Linked DNA regions of Homo sapiens. The protein of the gene in region 1 purifies or fractionates together with the protein of each later gene. This does not show direct contact. Each region holds a gene or a part of one and is shown in the gene's direction. Other genes may lie near its edges.

What was found.
Region 2: the proteins of SLC7A14 (region 1) and PLXDC2 purify together in Homo sapiens (affinity purification with mass spectrometry; one large-scale study listed by BioGRID and IntAct). This does not show direct contact.
Region 3: the proteins of SLC7A14 (region 1) and DNAJC11 purify together in Homo sapiens (affinity purification with mass spectrometry; one large-scale study listed by BioGRID and IntAct). This does not show direct contact.
Region 4: the proteins of SLC7A14 (region 1) and GPR89A purify together in Homo sapiens (affinity purification with mass spectrometry, with the first as the bait; one large-scale study listed by BioGRID). This does not show direct contact.

What each region holds. Positions count from the first base shown.
Region 1 is NC_000003.12:170,576,076-170,579,575, reverse strand, and holds part of SLC7A14 (solute carrier family 7 member 14), read left to right. Parts: intron 1-3,500. UniProt on the Homo sapiens protein: Imports 4-aminobutanoate (GABA) into lysosomes. May act as a GABA sensor that regulates mTORC2-dependent INS signaling and gluconeogenesis. The transport mechanism and substrate selectivity remain to be elucidated.
Region 2 is NC_000010.11:20,144,932-20,148,431, forward strand, and holds part of PLXDC2 (plexin domain-containing protein 2 isoform 1 precursor), read left to right. Parts: intron 1-2,852; coding exon 2,853-2,971; intron 2,972-3,500. UniProt on the Homo sapiens protein: May play a role in tumor angiogenesis.
Region 3 is NC_000001.11:6,649,817-6,653,316, reverse strand, and holds part of DNAJC11 (dnaJ homolog subfamily C member 11), read left to right. Parts: intron 1-365; coding exon 366-488; intron 489-1,714; coding exon 1,715-1,788; intron 1,789-3,500.
Region 4 is NC_000001.11:145,610,988-145,614,487, forward strand, and holds part of GPR89A (Golgi pH regulator A), read left to right. Parts: intron 1-1,214; exon of another isoform or gene 1,215-1,260; intron 1,261-3,500. UniProt on the Homo sapiens protein: Voltage-gated channel that enables the transfer of anions such as iodide, chloride, bromide and fluoride which may function in counter-ion conductance and participates in Golgi acidification.

The sequences.
Region 1 (3,500 bases):
AACAGCTCATTCTATTCTAGCAAGTCAATAAGGAAACGCCTAGAATTAACTGATTCTTATTTGCCAAAGGCAAAATATTCCAACCCAATGAACAACAAATGATCAAGCTGGTTCTCATTTTCTCTTCATTTTAAAAAAATTTTTCCATGTTTTTGAAAAATAATCAGTAAATAAGAAACAATTGCACCCAGGTGTTTAAACATTCTGTTGACAAAATGGTCTTCAGAAATGGAAAGGCTTAATTGTTTGTTAGAGATTATACAACATATTATTATGTCAATATTTTATAACAATCACATAACTGAACTCTCTCACTTTAGAGAGAAATTGATGCTGGGAACACTCACCTGAGTTGATGTCAGAGGAATATGACTTGAGTCTTCTCTCTCTCAGGCAATTATAGAACCCACTCTGCATTTTTTAACATCATGCATCATTTCATTAGTCATGAAAACTTGTTTAGTCTATGAGTTTATCAAAGATTCAGGTTTATCTTTTCTCAAAGATTCAGGGAGTAGGAAAGAGTATGTGTTTGGATTTCAGATTATTTCCCTTTGTACCTCCAGGTGAAAGAACTACTGGTCAAGGATGGTCAGCAGGTAGAAATTTCAGGGGTGGAACTATAAGCCATAGAAAAAGATTCAAAACCTCAGCATCATCCATGTTGCAAGAACTTAGGCAAGGATTTAACTCTTCTTACTTTTTAATCTTCATCCCTAAAAGAAGTTATTTAGATTAAATAGTGTACAATATCCTGCAAGCCATAACATTCTATGGTTCGATGAAATAGGGCCAAGAGCTTGAATAATCCATTATTTGCCTCCTTAAGACCGAAGAATTAAACATAAATCAAGATTCTTATTTTTACATCATTATTTATCAGAAGTTCTGAATTTCATGCTAGTACCTTACCTGGAAACAATAATGATAATGATAGCTAATACTTATATACAATTACTATGACTTTATAAGGTTGGTAATGCTATCATCGCCATTTTACAGATGAGAAACCTGGATACTAAAGTAGTTAAATTACCTGCCCAATTTGACACAGGTAACAAGTTTGTGCTACCATGCTACACCGCCTCTATAAAAACCACAAATCTGACAGATAGATAGCTGATGTGTGCCATTTATAGCCACTTGACACACCAGCCAATTCTCTGGAGAATTTCTATTTTAGCTCAATTTTTTACTAGAAGAGCAACCAAGATGGTGAATAGAACTTCAGTCCTGTGTGTGGGAATCTACATTGTCTTTCTGTAAGATGGCTCTTGTGCTTTTGCAATTGATGTCATTGACCAATTGTTTACGTGATTCAGCATTGAATGTTGGTGCTGTGCAGGTGGCTGCATGTGGTGAGGACCACTCTTCTGCCTCTTCCCAGAATGTGTGGCCAGCCACACCACCAGAAATAGATGGATGCTGGTGCAGGATCAATCCAGCACCTTCTAATGCTATAAAGGTCAGCCCACCACATCTTTACTGTTCAGTAGAGTCTTCTAGCTTCTGCCTTTAGGTTTTTGACTCAGTGTAACAATCTAGACAGCTTTTACAGTAGAGAGGGAGAGCTCCCAGAGTGTCATTTCCTGGAGGTAGGCTTGGGTCAAGGCTAAGACTAAAACTTTCAAAATCATGTTGTGAAAATCGTTTTCTTCTCATTAATCCTATGTTAACAAATTAGTCATAAATACAATACACCACAGTACCCATCTGTTTCACTGTGTATTTCAATGTACTGAATATACAAATGGGCATTTAGCTCTTAATATGGTATATCTAACCAGCTGAGAATGCTCTGACAGTAGTCAAATATACATGTTTATTCTTTAGCTCTAGTTTCTGGCTTGTTAAACTAGCTACATATCCCATCAACACCAAGGCCAATTACGGAATACATAACTCTACTTCTTCCTCTGTGGTTTTCTTTTTTTTTTTTTTTTTTTTTTTTGAGACGGAGTCTCGCTCTGTCGCCCAGGCCGGACTGCGGACTGCAGTGGCGCAATCTCGGCTCACTGCAAGCTCTGCTTCCCGGGTTCACGCCATTCTCCTGCCTCAGCCTCCCGAGTAGCTGGGACTACAGGCGCCCGCCACCGCGCCCGGCTAAGTTTTTGTATTTTTAGTAGAGACGGGGTTTCACCTTGTTAGCCAGGATGGTCTCGATCTCCTGACCTCATGATCCACCCGCCTCGGCCTCCCAAAGTGCTGGGATTACAGGCGTGAGCCACCGCGCCCGGCCTCCTCTGTGGTTTTCTAGATACTCTGTGGGGAGCGGGATGGCCTAGGAGTCAGAAGATCTGCTTTCCAGACTCAGCTTTGAAATGTACTACCTGTGACACTTGGGCCAGCACCATTCACTACTTCAAGACTGAACTTCCTTACCTTTAAAATAGGGGTAATAGATCTTGCCCCTCACATTACAAATAGGGCCAGTGAGATGGCATTAATTAAAGCTCCTTGTTAACCATAGAGTTAGTCCAGAGGAAAGAGATGGGTTTTCCATCCTTTCAGTCTTTCCCAGCCAGAAATTACTCTCAAGCTGTTGATACCCAATTCTGAACCAGGGTTGACAGCTAAATCAATGTCTTCAAGGTTAAGAAGAGCTTGGATTTAAATTTGTAAATCTAGAAAATGGCACTTACAATAGGAGAGGCCTCCTGGTTTCTTCCAAATTAATGGTCCTCAACCTGAGGCAATGTCACCTCAATAAGGGGTATTTTATATTGTCACAGATACTGGAGGAGAGGGGAGTTACTACTGACTTTTGGTGGACTGGGATCTAGAATGTTAAATATCCTGCATTAGACAGAAAAATCCTGCAGAATAAAAAATGTCCTGTCCAAAATGCCAATAGCACTCCACCCCCACTGAAAAATACCGCTCTAAGTAATGTGCTGTTCCTGGTCCCTAATTCTCCAATTGATGCAGACAGAGAGCGTTTACTTTTCATCTCCACCCACAGGTGAAATCCAGCCATGCTCATGTGAGGTCTGTAGTAGTTATTGTTCAGAAGTATGACCAGACTTCCAGTAAGTTTACCAATAAGTAAAACAATGGGGTCAGAGATCAGTGGTTTTAAAATTAGCCCCCAGAAGCTCCTACAAAAAGCCTCCTCCAACCTCTGCAGGGGCAAAGATTCCCAGCAGGTTAATATGCCTATAATGTGAGAGCTGGCCTAAAGGTTGGCATTTAGGGATGCAAAATCAGTAAATCATGATTCTAAAATGACTATCTTTGCAATTTATTGAAGAAACATTGTAATATTCACTTGTTTTATGACAAGCATGGGCCTAGCTAGGCACTGGATATGAGACATAATCCCTGCCTCAAGTCACCAGTAATCTGAAAGTTCCACAGATGTAATCCCCACTAATTATGTATGCAACATGACACATGCTATAACATATTATGAGGGAGCCTCCAAGGAGAGACCAGGAAACAATTCACTTCCACAGAGGAAATTATAATTGAACAGTATCTTGAATGGTATATAATATTTT
Region 2 (3,500 bases), on another chromosome or scaffold:
AATATTTGAATTTTACTCGTATTTGAATGATTTTTAAAAATTGATGTATACTACTCCAACTGAACTCTTAAGTTCTTTAAAAACAAGGACTGTGGCTATAAGAAATCATTTTATCTCCAGTACCCTGCATAGACACTTTATTATTTAGGACGTAGGTCCTAAATAATTATTCAATGAATGAATAAAAATAATTACATACGTAAAGTGAGTTTTATGTCTGAGAATTGTAAAAGTATTAATACTCAAGAATGCATGTATTGTTTACCCACTGAAATATCTTCTGTGTAATGACTTATTCCATAGGAATCAAATATTGAGGAATATTGAGTTCAAACAATATGATAATGAAAACTTACGTTTTATTAAATGAATGAAACACTTTTAAACACTGTAAGACTCTTCACGAAGCCCTTTTAATACCACAACAACTTGCTGAAATATTTTCAAGTTTAGTTAGAATCATTGACAGGATACTTAAAGATTGGAAACTCAACAATTTAGGAAAGCAAACTTCTCTGGAAAAGACAGCAGCAGGTTAGAAAATTTAAATCAGCAAATGTTGAGAGAGCTATGCTATTACATAATATAAAACTTAACATGTGCAAACAGTACACTTTTTTTTGTTTTTTGTGTTTTGAGATGGAGTCTCACTCTGTCGCCCAGGCTGGACTGCACTGGCATGATCTCTGCTCACTACAACCTCCGCTTCCCGGGTTCATGCCATTCTCCTGCCTCAACCTCCCGAGTAGCTGGGACTACAGGCGCCCACCACCACGCCCGGCTAATTTTTTAATATTTTTTTTAGTAGAGATGGGGTTTCACCGTGTTAGCCAGGATGGTCTGGATCTCCTGACCTCGTGATCCGCCTGCCTCGGCCTCTCAAAGTGCTGGGATTACAGTTGTGAGCCACCGCACCTGGTCAACAGTGTGGTTTTTAACAACCTGCTACTAACAAAATATTAGGAATCCCTTCCTCAGAATTGGCATTAAAAACTTTAATTTATATAGCCCTCTTATTTTCATAAATAATCAAGCGTAAGTATATTTTCTTGTATTTAATGCAGGAATGTCTTGAAGGCAAAAACTATACTCCCCATGTTATAGGAAAGGAAACGGGTTCATGCAGATTAATTGTGTCCAAGTTCACATGGAAAGTTTTATAGAGACAAGATGCAAGTCTAAGTCTTCTGCCCTCTGGTTCATTGTTTTCACTGCATCACCAGAGTGCGATAGAAACTAGAAAATAAGGAATAGACTAGAGCTTGAGGGTTGTAGACATGTGTGAAGGAAAAAGAAGTTAGGAGGCATTTCACAATCAGAAAATTCCTATACTTATAAAATCATGGGAGGTTTCCTGGCTACTGTCTTCTTTTGCTCTATTTTTTTTGTTTTCTCTTCTTTTCTTTTCTCTTCCTTCTTTCTTTTCTTTTCTCCTTCCTTCCTCCCTCCCTCCTTTCTTTCTTCCTTGCTTCCTTGCTTCCTTTTCTTTCTTTCTTTCTTTTTCTTTCTTTCTTCCTTTCTTCCTTCCTTCCTTCCTTTCTTTCTTTTCTTTTCTTTTTCCTTCCTTCCTTCCTTCCTTCCTTCCTTCCTCCCTCCCTCCCTCCCTCCCTCCCTCAGGACAATATAGACACGGAGATGCCCGTGGAAGGAAGAGACCTGAGTGGTCTTCACTCACAGCAGTGATAATGGCTAAAAGCACCAAGGTCAAGTTAAAAAACTTTTTTTTCTTTTTTACTTTTAAAGTTTTGCCTCAAAAGAAATACATTTCTTTACTTCAACATCCTTTCAGGACTTACAATTGGGTGTTCAAAATATTTGAAATAATGTGTCTATTTAAAATTGTCAACCAGCTCAAGAGATATTACTAATAGCACCAAATAGTTACTGAAAATTAATTCTTCCATGCAATTGTAATTTTTAAATATATCAGATATTTATTACTGGGAGATAAGATTTGCTCTTTTAGTTCTATGATTTTCATTTTCAGCACAACTTTTTTGGGCAACAGTTTTTCTAACCAAACAGAAAAATCTAATATTTAGAGTGAAGAAAAAGTCTTAGCAGCTCATTTCTTTTCTTTTTTTTTAAAAAAAGAGAGTACACAATGTCAGTTAAAACAAAAATTTGAATTCTCACTGGTGACTATTAAACTATGTTTCAGTTTTTATTTCATGCCCAATCGTTTATGGTAAACACTGACAGAGTGATTCAGAATATAATATACAGCACTGAAGTTTCATCCCAGTGTGCTTCAAGGGGACTTCAAAAATCTTAGTCCAGGGCCCTTTGAGCTTCTTACAGCTTCCTGGAAGAAACACAACAAAGACAGAAATACAAGCATTGTGAACTCAAGGAGAAAATTCCCATTAGTGTTAAAGGAACTCCTTCAATGTGGAAAAGTATAATTTTAAGTATGGAAAAGACATTTTCAGGTCTTTTGTATGTGGTCCTAACTTTTTAGATGTGTTTCTCTCTCAGCATTTGTCAAATGTATTTGAAGTTCATTCAATCCACTTGGGCTGCATTTTGAAAGTGGCTTATGGAAATTTAAGCAGACAGTATCTATTAACATTAATAAAATTCCTAAGGCAAAATTCCCCCACACTGCATTAGCTCAATTATTGACCTTAGTATGAGGTTCTATTTTACTAAATATTTAGAGAGTACTCAATCCTTTAAAAAAAATCCCAAATGCTATTTCAATAACAGAATTTGATTAACCACATAAAATCGAAATAGTACAACTACCAGATTTGAAGGCCAGATGCAAAAACATTTTTGTGAAAACTCCCACCAGAATTGATTGGTATGTTTTTCTCATTGCATTTCTTCTTTTTTCAATGGGTGTATAGGCACAGCACTTGTGGTCCAGTGGGACCATGTACATCTCCAGGATAATTATAACCTGGGAAGCTTCACATTCCAGGCAACCCTGCTCATGGATGGACGAATCATCTTTGGATACAAAGAAGTAAGTGATGCGTTGATAATTTCTTTCCCTTCCCCTTGTTCTTGACTGCTGCCTTTCCTCCAAATGTCAAGAAAGGGACATTTTACAGCCATGATCCTCAAATCATTTTCTTGCCTCTTGGTTTCCTTTGCTTAATAAAAAATGTTTTGATTAGTTTTAATTTTCTGGGTGCATTGATTGTTAGCTCTTTTGTATTCTGATATTGTTGGCATCAGGACTCATCAATTTCATAAAATTATTGAGTAATTATATTGACTAATTATTGAGTAATTAGAGTGAAATGTCTCTAAGAAAAAAAATTCAATTTGGAGGGATTTCTCATCTAAATGTAAATGTTTATATTTACGTATTTTCTTTAGTTAGTTTTTTTTTTTTCACCTGGTTGATTTCTTTGTTATATTTTGGTTCTAATTTCAAAAGCATTTATAGACACGAAAACTTATGTGGCTCAAGGACCCAGTACTGAGAGAGTTCTAGGATGGCTGTGCTTTGGCTAATGTTTGTTGAAACCAGATAGGAAAGATTAATT
Region 3 (3,500 bases), on another chromosome or scaffold:
TACAGCCATGGGAAGGTCTTCAGTCCCCCTGGAACCCTGATGGCAAACCACAGAGGGAAGGCACACAGTGAAGTCACTGTGCTATCTGATACCATTGGGACATGCAGCCCCATGTTTCCCCTGGTGTTGTGAAATGTGCCCATTAAAGCTTTTGCAAAGCATATTACCCTCGTGGTCACATGCAGACCAAATAACAAAGCGGAAGAAAAGTGAAGCTGTTGCGGCAGTTCTGCATCCATGTGTGCTTCTGAACAGAGGAATCGTCTGCACCTTTGGCCTTGGGCTCACAGTGCGTTCTTTAGGCTGCTGCCATTGGCACTTCCTGTTGTTTTGATTCATTCATTACCAGCAAATACCATTTTTAGGCACCCTTGACAGCGACAGACACAGCCATCCTCTCTGGAAGCCTCTCAACCCAGAATGGAAATGGAGGAGGTTCCATTAACTTTGCGCTCAGACGAGTAACTTCGGCAAAGGGATGGGGAGAGGTAAGAATGTCTATTGGCTGAGTTGTGTTGTCTGTGCAAAGCCTTATTTCTGAACATTTACACTCTCAAAGCTCACCCTCAAACTCACCCTGGGGGCCCCGTTGTTGTGTAAGAACGGTACCAAGTGTCAAGCTTCCATAAGTTGACTGGTCCTAAAAGAAAAATAGGTCTCATGAGCCTGGCCAACATGGTGAAACCCCGTCTCTACTAAAAATACAAAACTTAGCTGGGCATGGTGGCACCTGCCTGTAATCCCAGCTACTTGGGAGGCTGAGGCAGGAGAATCACGAGAATCACATGAACCCAGGAGGCAGAGGTTGCAGCGAGTCAAGATCGCGCCGTTGCACTCCAGTCTGGGGGACAAGAGCAAAATTCCGTCTCAAAAATAAATAAATAAATAGGTCTCATATCTGAGAAGTCCTGTCAGTCTTCCTCACAGTTTAAAATTGGCATAGAAAAACAAGGTTTCCTATGAGATGCCAACTTCTAGAAATCCAGCCTCTGAAACTCCGTGTGTTTGTTCCCTTTGAGCAAAAAGCCTGTGGGCTCTTTTTCCTGCACAATTCAGAAGGCAGGTGCTCTCTTCCGCGTGATGGTTCACTGATTGGTGGCCATTTAACAGCCAGTTCTGCCGAGCAAATTGAGCTGCATCAAATTAACATTGAAGAGTTGCTTGAAAGTCACCCAGACTAGTAAACACGGCAGCCAGGCTCAGCTGTGACTTCCAAGGCTGTGCGGGTGTGGAACCGCGGCTGGGCTTTAACATCAGGCTCCTGAGGACCGCCCCAGTGACCTGGGAGACATTTGGCGCAGGATGAAAATGAAAAGGAGTCGGCAGTGCATGCGGGGGTGGGGGGCACACCGGACCGCAGTCGGTGCTCTGCAGGTGGCGGGGGGCTGCGCCGGGAGGGGTAGGGGGAGCCAGCTGGTCTCCTGACCTCAGCCTGGGAGGCAAGGAACAGAGGGGAGCAGTTTTTTCTTTGGAGGGACACCAATGAAACATGTGCCTTTGAAGCCTGGGTCTCCTTTGGATCTGTGGCAGCAGACAGCTCCATTTGGCAAAGGTTAAGATGAGACATTAACAATCTTCCACCCCCTTCTTTTAGAGCCCTGGCAAGACCAGTGAATTGAATGAAGGAATTATACCTAGAGGTACATACCTGAGCCTGGGTTGCTGCTATGAGATAAAACACCATTAATGCCTTCTCTTTTTCCTTTTCAAACAGTTGGAATTTGGAGCTGGAGACCTACAGGGGCCTTTGTTCGGTCTCAAGCTGTTCCGTAATCTCACACCAAGATGGTAAATATGAGAGACAGCAGCTCCTCTTTGGTGGTCTTTGTTGGCTTAGGAGACTAGAACTGTGTGTTCTTTTTATCACAGTGGTTGGCACTATCTTGTCTGTCCTACAAGGTCACTGCGTACATCAAGGGCAGGTATAGCACTGGCGTGAAGCCCAGGCAGTGTGCAGGTGGGAAGAGGCAGGATTGAGGGGGCCGGACCCTTGTCCCAGCCCTGGCCAGGCTGCACCATCCAGGTCTCGCACCTCCCTTACCTATGCCACAAGGCCACGGAGAAAGAGTGCCTTCAGGGAGAGTTGGTCAGTGGACCGAAACACTTACAGACTTATGGATCGTTCCATTGTCCCAGAGAATGACAGACTGCCTCATCATCGGGTTGATTGACATATGCCAGAGATGTAGTCCCCAGCCAGCCTCTGCTTCCTGTCGTCTCTGCTGCTGCCATGTCACACTCCTAGAACTGTATATCCCTGTCCCTTCTAGAACGACAGCAGTGTCTTCATTTCCTATATGGTGGGTGCAGTGATGTCTGTGTGAGCTCAGATAAAAGAATTGGTGGAGGGTAAATAATACCTCTTTCTTCCAGAGGAAGATATAGCTGAAGGAGTCCTAGAATGGAGCACATGGAGTTTATTTTATTTATTTATTTATTTTGGAGACAGGGTCTTGCTCTGTCTTGCCCAGCCTGGAGTGCGGTGGTGTGATCTCGGCTCACTGCAGCCTCTGCCTCCTGGGTTCAAGCTATTCTCCTGTCTCAACCTTCCGAGTAGCTGGGACTACAGGCGTGTGCCACCACACCCAGCTATTTTTGTATTTTTAATAGAGATGGGGTTTCACCATGTTGGTCAGGCTGGTCTCGAACTCCTGACCTCAGGTGATCCACCTGCCTCGGCCTCCCAAAGTGGTGAGATTACAGGCGTGAGCCACCACGCCTGGCCTATTTTATTTTACTTTATTTTTGTTAGAGACGAGGTTTTGTTCTGTTGCCTAGGCTAGAGTGCAATAGTCCGATCATAGTCCACTGCAGCCTTGAACTCCTGGGGTCAAGCAGTCCTCCTCCCTCAGCCTCCCGAAAAACTAGGACTACAGGCGTGTGCCAACATGCCTGGCTCATTGTTTAGTTTTTTTTAGGGATAAGTTATCTCTATGTTGCCTAGGCTGGTCTCAAGCTCCTGGATTCAAGCAGTCCTCCCACCTTGGCCTCCCAAAGCACTGAGATTAGAAGCATGAGCCACTTCAGCAAGCCTGGAGTATATGTTTTTTGTTTTGAGACAGGTCTCACTTTGTCACCCCGGCTGGAGAATAGTGATGCAATCTTGGCTCACTGCACCCTCAACCTCCCAGGCTCAGGTGACCCTCCTGAGTAGCTGGGACTACAGGTGTGCACCACCATGCCTGACTAATTTTTGTAGAGTTGGGGTTTCTCCTTGTTGGCCAGGCTGGTCTCTTAACTCCTGACCTCAGGTGATCCTCCCACCTTGGCCTCCCAAAGTGCTGGCATTACAGGTGTGAGCCACTGTGCCCAGGCACAGTGGCATGAATAACTTTCTTATCAAACATGTATTGTAGGCTGTACAAACATGTACAAACATGTACAGGAGTTCGAGACCAGCCTGGCCAACATGGCGAAACCCCCTCTACTAAAAATATAAAAATTAACCAGGCATGGTGGCGCTTGCCTGTAGTCCCAGCTACTTGGGAGGCTGAGGTGGG
Region 4 (3,500 bases), on another chromosome or scaffold:
ACTCTGTACAATTCTGAAAGTATCAAGTCTCATTTTTAATAAGAAGCTATACGCCTTCCATTTTATTTGCAAAGCTATTTGAAATTGCATTTTGCTTCTGCTTTCTTTTTGGATCCTCTATAATCTTGCCAGAATTTGTGTTTACTTGGATGTAAATGAATTCTCCAGCTACTTGTGTGTGTGTGTGTGTGTGTAGTTTAAGTCTTTTTTTTTTTTTCAACTTTTATTTTATTTTAGATTTGGTACTTGTGCCGGGTATATTGTGGGAGCTCAGGTTTGGGGTACAAATGATCCGGTCACCCAGGTACTGAGCATAGTACTCAATAATTAGTTTTTCAACCCTTCCCCCTTCTCCCCTCCCCTGCCCCCAAGTAGTCTCCAGTTTCTGTTTTTGCCATCTTTATGTTGGTGAGTACCCAATATTTAGCTCCCACTTAGAAGTGAGAACATGTGGTATTTGGTTTTCTGTTCTTGCATTAATTTGCTTAGGATGATGGCCTCTAGCTGCATCTATGTTGCTGCAAAGGACATAATTTTGTTCTGAAAGTCTTTTTAAGCTTTTCTTTTTCAATGTGAAAGGAGGCCACAATGAAATATTAAAGGTATATATCTGTTTCTCTTTTCTTCCATTCCCCTCCCCACCATATAAACTTAAAATTTTTGCTTGTTTTCTCTTCCATTTCATAGCAATCTTGGTGATTTTTTTTTTAATCATCCATTTCCACTATACATACCACCCTCAGTCCTAACTGCCCAACTTCTCTGTCTTCAGTCGTGGCTTCATAAGTCATATAAATATGGTCTCTAAACTCTGAATTTACATCTGTCTCCACCGGTAAATATTTATAATAGCCAAAGGATATCCTGGACATTTTCTCCTAATCTGTTTGACCCTTTCCTTTTCTGCTTGATCTAGATGCTTGGATCCAACTTACTTTCTTACACCCTCTTGTTCGTTTACCTTCATGTATATATAAGTCCACACTTGGATCACTGCTATAGTTTGTTTACTACTAATACAGAGGCCTGAAGGCTACTATAGAAAATCACATAGCTGTGTAGTTTGCCAACGCCAGGAGTTTAACCCTCAGCTCACTGAATTATTCCTTTTCTTGACCTTAATCAGCTACTTGTTTCATTCCCCTCAAAGTTTCTCCGAATCTTTGTCACTCTCCTCAAAGCTCCTTTTTCTAACTCACCTCTCTTACTCTTAGCAGATAACCTTGCCTCGTACTTACTCAACAAAAGTGAAGCCAAAAGGTATGATCTCCTACTATGAATACTTTCTGCATTTTAATCTAAAAGGTTATCTGTGTTCACAACCATTCTTACCTCCTTTCCTCCCATTTCAGAAAACGGGGTTCCCCTACTCCGGTTTAAAGCCATTCTACCTACCTTTGATCTTAGAGTAGCGTATTTTGAAGTGGTTAAAAGCACAGATTTTCTAAACAGACAGACTCAATAAGAGCTGAAAAAATAATATTTAAAAAAAAGCACAGATTTTGGAGTCAAACAAGCTTGAGTTCAATCTTGATTCTGACACTTACTATAAATTGATTAACTTCTCTAAACCTCATCTTTCTCCGTGAAAATAGGATAATCAAACCACTGTACTGAGTTTTTAATTATTTTTATAAGATTATAATGCTAAGTACTACTTAGAGAGCCTGTAGTATAGTAAATGCTCAATAAAAGTTACCTAATCATATTAATAATAGTATTATCAGTTTATCCTCTAGTATTCCACCATCCTTCTCATCTTTTTCTCCTTACTTGACTGCTTTCTTTCCCCTTGGCCAATAAACTTTCCCTTTATTCCACATTCTTCTCTAGCCTATTATCTAATGTTTTCTTTTTTTCTCATTCCTGGCTCTCCCTAGAGTAATTTGCATTTACTGTCCCCACTGCTTTAGCTCCCATTCATTCTGACCTGCTACACTCTGGTTCCTGCCTCTACCTCACTATTCAAAATTGTTTTCCTTATCCTCTAGTGTTTTCTTCTTGGCACATTGCTCTCCTTACTCTAGATACTATTCCCAGGTGATCTCATGTACTTTGGTGGTTTCAACTCATAGGTATATCTTAGACCTGCCTTCACAATCTGTCTTTTATTCCAGATACTTGCTGGATATCTTGATCCATCTTGCTGGCTGTCCCTCAGGCCCTTAGTGTGTTCAAAAATGAGCTCATCATTTTCCCCATCCTCTGCCCCCTTTCCTAAACCTCTTCTTTCTCCAGTATTCTTTATATAAATTGGGTAGCTTCACTCTTCATCCTGTATTCCAAACTAGTCATCCTTGACTTCTCCCTGTTGATTTTACCTTCTAAATAGTTCTCAAATCTGTTTTCTCCTCTTCTGTCACCAAATGTCTTAATTCAGGGCTTTATCATCTTTCATCTGAATTCCCATAACACATTTCTATAATGTTTCTCTTTCTACACTGTTGTTTCCTTCAAGTGTGTCTTCCATACAGCCACCATACCGCTCTATATAATATAAAACAAATCAGACCATGCCATTTCCCTGCTTAAATAACCCTCATCACCTACAGACTATAATCTAAGCTCCTTAGGGTGGCCTTCAAAGCTCTCAGTGATTGGACATCCACTCCTCCTGTCTAGCCTCATTTTTAACCTCTTCCTTCTTTGAATTTCATCTTCTAGCAGCACCAAACCATGTGTAGTTCCCGGCATATACCATGCTATTCACTCTGCGCCTTTACTCATGCCCTTTGCTATCTGGAAAGCCCTGTCCTCCTACCCCTACCACCTGTTTTTACCCTACCTGATTCGTTTTTTGTTTGTTTGTTTTGTTTTGAGACAGGGTTTCGCTCTGTCACCCAGGCTGGAATGCAGTGACATGCTCACAGCTCACTATAACGTCTACCTGCCAGGCTCAAGTGGCCCTTCCACTTCAGCCTCCCCATAAGCTGGAACTACAGGCACGCACCACCATACCTAGCTAATTTTTGTATTTTTTGTAGAGATGGGGTTTCACCACGTTGCCCAAGCTGGTCTCGAACTCCTGGGCTCAAGCGATCTACCCAAAGTGCTGGGATTACAGACGTGAGCCACCATGTCCAGCCTCCCTACTTGATTCTTATTCATCCTTTGAGAGGATGGTTTTTATGTTAGGGGTGGTGGAAACCTTTGACTGTGTGATGAATACCTTGAAACCACTCTAGAAAAATGCACATAACCCCAAAATGTGCATACAATATCAGGTTTTAACCCCAAATTAAAACTTCCTTCGGCTCGGGCATTATCTTCTCCAGAAAATCTGTCCTAACCCCTTACAGATTGGTTTGGTCTCCCTCTTTCATATTGTTTTACAATATCATGTATGTATTTCTATCATTGCACATCCATATTATGTTATAATTATTTATGTACTGTCTTCACTATATTGTGAGCTCCTAGAGGGTAGTAACCATCCTATTCATCTTTGTATCCTCAGCACTTAGCATAGCACGTAGGAGTTATTACAGAAAATTTAAGAT